2 separate regions of the Homo sapiens genome follow, and region 2 is linked to region 1. Evidence: fine-mapped expression QTL. Tissue or cell type: blood mononuclear cells. Region 1 holds a variant in brackets; the other region holds the start of a gene. All regions are shown on one strand. Distances are from middle to middle.

Evidence for each region. PIP is the estimated chance that this variant, and not a neighbour inherited with it, causes the effect.
Region 2: TOR1AIP1 starts here. The variant in region 1 is fine-mapped to the expression of TOR1AIP1 in blood mononuclear cells (TOPMed, PIP 0.95).

The regions. Positions count from the first base shown.
Region 1 is chr1:179,818,336-179,821,016 of GRCh38, reverse strand. LINC02818 (long intergenic non-protein coding RNA 2818) reads left to right here. Exons shown (of 3, transcript XR_001738312.3): 3 at 568-1,191. LOC105371634 (a long non-coding RNA gene) reads left to right here and starts at 1,599. Exons shown (of 5, transcript XR_007066756.1): 1 at 1,599-2,031. RefSeq lists an enhancer at 1,512-2,497. The variant A/C (reference allele first, on the strand shown) is at 1,104.
Region 2 is chr1:179,880,612-179,883,292 of GRCh38, reverse strand. TOR1AIP1 (torsin 1A interacting protein 1) reads right to left here and starts at 1,008. Exons shown (of 10, transcript NM_015602.4): 1 at 316-1,008. The coding sequence starts at 790. LOC139427322 reads right to left here and starts at 977. Exons shown (of 1, transcript NM_001436163.1): 1 at 900-977. The coding sequence starts at 977. The coding sequence ends at 900. RefSeq lists enhancers at 42-141, 445-739, 302-1,061, 566-1,103, 1,082-1,191 and 1 more.

The DNA of each region.
Region 1 (2,681 bases):
AATATGAATGCTCTCCTTCATTCGTTCAGTTTATTGGGGCACATATGAGGCCAAAATGCAGTCATAGGTTGCTGGGAGCATGGGTCCCTCAGTGAGTCACAGGCAGAGTTACTGGCAGAGGTGGGAGGTTCCACACAGAGAGAGAGGTGGACCTGGCAGTAGTGGCACAGGCTGGCCCCAGCTGGCCCCTCTCTCCACCTCCCAACGGCCATCCGTCCTTCATCGCCCGGCAGCTCACTGGGTGGAGAACCAAGTAGTACGAGGGAGGAGGGACTGAGTGCAGGTGTGGACATTGGTGCAGTGGGGAGAATGGGAGAGCCCAGAGGGAACCTTCCTTCCTGTTGCCTAAGTAGCCCCTGTGGGGGGCCCTGCTGCCTCCAGATTCGGTTCTGTCTGTATATCCTACTGTAACAGCCAGAGAAATCTAACATCGCTGACTCCATCTTGCTTCTAACCTCATAAGCCAACTGCCTTTGCTCATCCCTAGACACAGGCCAAGCTAACCACGAAAAGCATTTTGATTACAGTTTAACGCTAGTACTAATGACCACCTCTCTTTTGAAACAGACTCCTGAGGAGATGAGGAAGTGTGCACTCAAGTAACAGTGCTGTCTGAAAGACTTAGAGCAACAAGGTGGATCTGACAAGCAGTTGACCATGAACAAAGAAGTTTTGCAACCTCCTTGGACCCCTGATGACAGCCAGATGTCTGTGGCCTCCAGTCACCTCCAGACCTTCACCCCCTGCATGGTCCCTCTTCCTCTAATATGAAAGAAGCCTAAAAAAATCTATCAATCTAAGTTGGTTCTGGCTGGGCACGGTGGCTCATGCCCGTAATCCCATCACTTTGGGAGGCTTAGGCAGGAGGATCACGAGGTCAGGAGTTCGAGACCAGCCTGGCCAAGAGACCAGCCTGTGGTGAAACCCCATCTCTACTAAAAATACAAAAATTAGCTGGGAGTGGTGGCGGGCACCTGTAATCCCAGCTACTCGGGAGGCCTAGGCAGGAGAATTGCTTGAACCCAGGAGGTGGAGGTTGCAGTGAGCTGAAGATTGTGCCATTGCACTTCAGCCTGGACAACAGAGTGAGACTCCGACTCACA[A/C]AAAAAAAAAAAAATGTTCTTTAGGACATTGGTCCTCCATCTTCTCAGTTGGAAGCTCCCAGAAATAAAGTCATCTTCCTTACCCCAACACCTTCTCTCAACTTATTGGCTGTCATGTTGTGAGTGGTAGAGTTTGGACTTGGCTATACTGCTAATGATAGTGGCTACCACATGTGCCATTATCATTAATGTGAGGTGTCACATTGGGACCATAATGCCCACTGTATCCATTAAAATTAAGTGAGGTGTCAGCTCACTTAATTTTTTTTTGAGATGGTGTCTCACTATGTAGCCCAAGCTGGAGTGCAGTAGTGCAGTCTTGGCTCACTGCAACCTCCGCCTCCGGGACTCAAGTGATTCTTGGTGCCTCAGCCTCCCAAGTAGCTGGGACTACAGATGCCTGTCACCTCGTCCGGCTAATTTTTTGTGTTTTAGTAGAGACAGGATTTCACCATGTTGCCCAGGGTGGTCTCGAACTTCTGAGCTCAGGCGATCTGCCCACCTCTGCCTCCCAAAGTGCTGGGATTACAGGTGTGAGCCACCGCACCCAGTCAGCTCACTTAATTTTCATGGAATACAGTGGGCATTATGATCCCAATTTTACAAGTGAGAAAACTGAGAAGGAGAGAGGTCCCCAAAGTTGCCTAAAGTCACACAGTAAGTGGTAGAGTCAGGATTCCAGCTGAAGTCTGCTTCCAAATCCCACCTTCTAACCGCTGCCACTAGACTGCTGTGTCTGCTGGGGTGTTAGGTCACAGGAGAAAAGAGATAATGGCTTTGTGACCCGGGAGCTCCGCCTTCACCTCCTCCTGCCATCCTCAGCATGAGCCAGCTGCATGAGGGGTGCTGTGTGCTGGGCTGGAGGATGGAGCCATGTGCCACTCCCTCCGAGGCACGCTGTGAAGGTGCAAGTGGTGTGTTCTGAGAGGTTGTGCACTACTTGGTTCTCCACCCAGCGAGCTGACAGGCCGGCGATGAAGGAAGGATGGCCGTTGGGAGGGGGAACTGGTGGAGAGAGGGGCCAGCTGGGGAGGAGGGTGGAGGAGTAGCTTGAGTCAGACTGCGGGGGAGGTACTGGCCGTCCTTGTCACTGTTCTTTAGAAAATGCCTCCGTCAGTGCCTGAGGTTCAAGGAGTGTAGGCCGTTTTCTTTCTGAGTTCCGAGCAAATCGAGCTGGGGGACTCCGGGGTATGCTGCCCTATCCCAGGAGTCTCAGTCTTAGGTAGTTTGGCGATCTTCTCCTGTAAATAATCAATAGTCCCTGAACAGCACTTGTAAATTTGAGCGTAGAAAACTGGGTGAGATGTTTTTATGGTGAAAGAAGCTTCTCCTTGAAGTCCCTGCAGAAGCCCCAGGGGCAGAGTGACATGGACAGGTTTTGGGGATGTGGGCTGAATGATGCCATTATGGGGCTGCTGGAATCTGGGGTGCCAGAGCTGTTGGTTGGAAAGCCCCCGGGTATGAGGGCAATGTGCCACTTTGACGACAGCCTCTGCCTCCAACTTTTTTGGGCCTGAACAGTGCGGAGGATGAAAACTTCTCACCCAGCTTTCTACATTCAAGTTTACAAGTGCTGCT
Region 2 (2,681 bases), 62 kb before region 1:
GTCCCCTCGTGAAGGCCTGCAGAAAAAGGCAGCTCTGACTCCCCTAAATTGATGCCCGATGTTGGGCAGAGCGCCCCAGCCCTGCCCGGGTCGCTCCACACGACCATCTTTCCACTCCTCCGGTCGGCGCTTCCTTCCCCGCTGCGGGTCAGGGTGGCCCTTGCACGGCGGCACAAGTCCAGAGGGGGCTGAGGAATACCCTTTAGCCAATCCCAGTACTTAGTACCCAGGCGGGCATGAGCTCCACCGAGGCGCGCGCCCGCCCCCGCGCGTTCCCTGGCTCGCGGCTGGGACTGTTACCTCCGCGGTCCTCACCTTCAGAGGAATGAGAGTCCCGCAGCCCTCTCCTGGTCATAACAGGAGACGGCTGTAGCGGAGGCTGCTCTGAGTGCTGCTGCTGAAGGCGGGTAGTCCTTCGCGTCTTCATTTCCTCGGTTTCCTGGGGTCGCGGCTGCCTCCGCTGCCTAGACCGAAGGTAGTACGCGCTTTCTCTCACTTCCTCTTTCGCAGAATCGGACCGGAACTCTTCTAGCCGGGTTCGTTTTCCCACCGGGGACCTTTCTTTGGCCACCAGGGGCTCGAAGTCGCCGTACACTTCTGGCGGCTCGTCCGAGAACCTCACTTCCCGCCGGCCCTGGCGCGACGGAGGAGTTCTGTACGCAGGCGCATCGCTGCTGCCGCCATTTTGAGGGGCGAGCCGGCCCCTTCCCTCTCGGATGGGGGCCCTGGGGGTGACGTACACACCCCATCCTTCCCGCACCGCCTCTGCCCGCCGCCCGTCGCCCGCCATAGTTGTTGACGTAGCTTTAGTCGATCGCGAAGATGGCTTTATGGACCCTAGGTTCTCCTGCCGGTGGTGGCGATGGCTTCTCGGGGGTGTTGGGCGGTGGCCGCTGTGGTCAGGGAGGCAGTTGCGAGTCGCTGGGGCCGCCGCCTGCGTCGTCGCTGCTGTGTAGCAAACCTGCCTCTGGGCCCATGGTGTGTCTTGAGGGCTGTGAGAGAGGCAGTGCCTGAGCTGGGTCAGCTGCTGTGGATCGCTCCCGCCTCCTGGCTGGAGGCACCAAAGAGGAGGAGAAGGGGGAGGAGGACGTCTCTGCCATCGCCCTTAAGTAAAGGAGGGGTGGGGGCGATAGAAGGATGGCAGGGCAACTTGCCTGTCCTAAGTCTAGCCGCTCGTGGCAAGTGTTGACTGCGTGTAGGAGACTCCCGTCCTATCTCCCAGTACCAAGTCTCGGGGAAAAGGAGTGCGACGAGGGTGGAGAAGACCCAAGTTTCGCTTCTCGGCCCCAGGCTGTTGCGCAGTTTCCCTGGAATCTTTTTGATCGACTGCTACGTTGACCATGTCCTTCCCAGTGTCCTTAGCAGGAGTGATGGCCAGAGAGAGAACTTTTGCACATGCCATGTTTTCGTGGCAAAAATTTTAGTTTCAAGTACCTTATGAGGGCGGTTACCTAGTTTTGAATTTTGTCACTTGTTGAGGGTGTACAAAATCCTATCTAGAGTCATACTCGTTGGATGTATTTTCTTTTCCGAAATGTACCCATAGGACACATAACCTTATTCCTGGTCTTTAATATTTCTCGGTTTTATACCAAGCAGCAGTGTTCGGAAGACCATGTTAGTGCTACATTGTGCACAGTGAGAAATGAACAAGTTTTTTAATTAAAGACAGCACTGTAATTTTAAGTTGTGATCCATTATTTTTACTTTTATTCTGGATGTGACGTGATACTCTACATTTGATTTAGAATGCTTTATGGACTTTATGGAATAAGAAAGCATGGTAAAATCTATTTGTTTCACCTCCTTATACAAATGTTTACAGATGTGGCTAATCTGCAAATACCTAACCAAATTTAGACACATTCAGAGAAGGTCGATTAAGTTCGTGTAAAGTCTGAATAATTATTGAAAGAAAGCTTAAATTGCCTTCAAATATACAACTGCTTGTAGGGCTTTGTATGATTGGAGTGAATAGATTTAAAAAATTGTAATTTGGATACCAGTTACAATGAGCGATTCTGAAAAGTTTGAAGGTGTTTGTTTATTCTTCCAAGTAATCACCTTAAAATGTTTTTGAGCAACTCATTTGTTGCTCAAACTTGGCACAAATTTCAACTACTTAAGTCGTAATGTGTACTATGTTTTTATTTTATTTTTATTTTTATTTTATTTTTTTTGAGACGGAGTCTTGCTCTGTCACCCAGGCTGGAGTCCAGTGGCGCGATCTCGGCTCACTGCAACCTCTGCCTCCCGGATTCACGCCATTCTCCTGCTTCAGCCTCCCCAGCAGCTGGGACTACAGGCGCATGCCGCCACGCCCGGCTAATTTTTTTGTATTTTTAGTAGAGACAGGGTTTCACCGTGTTAGCCAGGATGGTCTCGATCTCCTGACCTCGTGATCCGCCTCTCGGCCTCCCAAAGTGCTGGGATTACAGGCGTGAGCCACCCTGCCCGACTGTGTACTATGTTTTTACTAATATTGTCCATAAATTTGGCCACAGGCAGGAGGAATTACAGTTTTAGAGTGAGATAAGGTTTGGCCTGTTAGGAGCTTAGTTTACTGTAGCTTTATGTACAATATAGCTTTTAAAAACTGCAGTAACAAAAGAGAGACTTCTTTCTTTCTTTTCTGTCTCTCTTTCTTCTTTCTTCTTGTCTTTTAAGGAAAAATGAAAAGG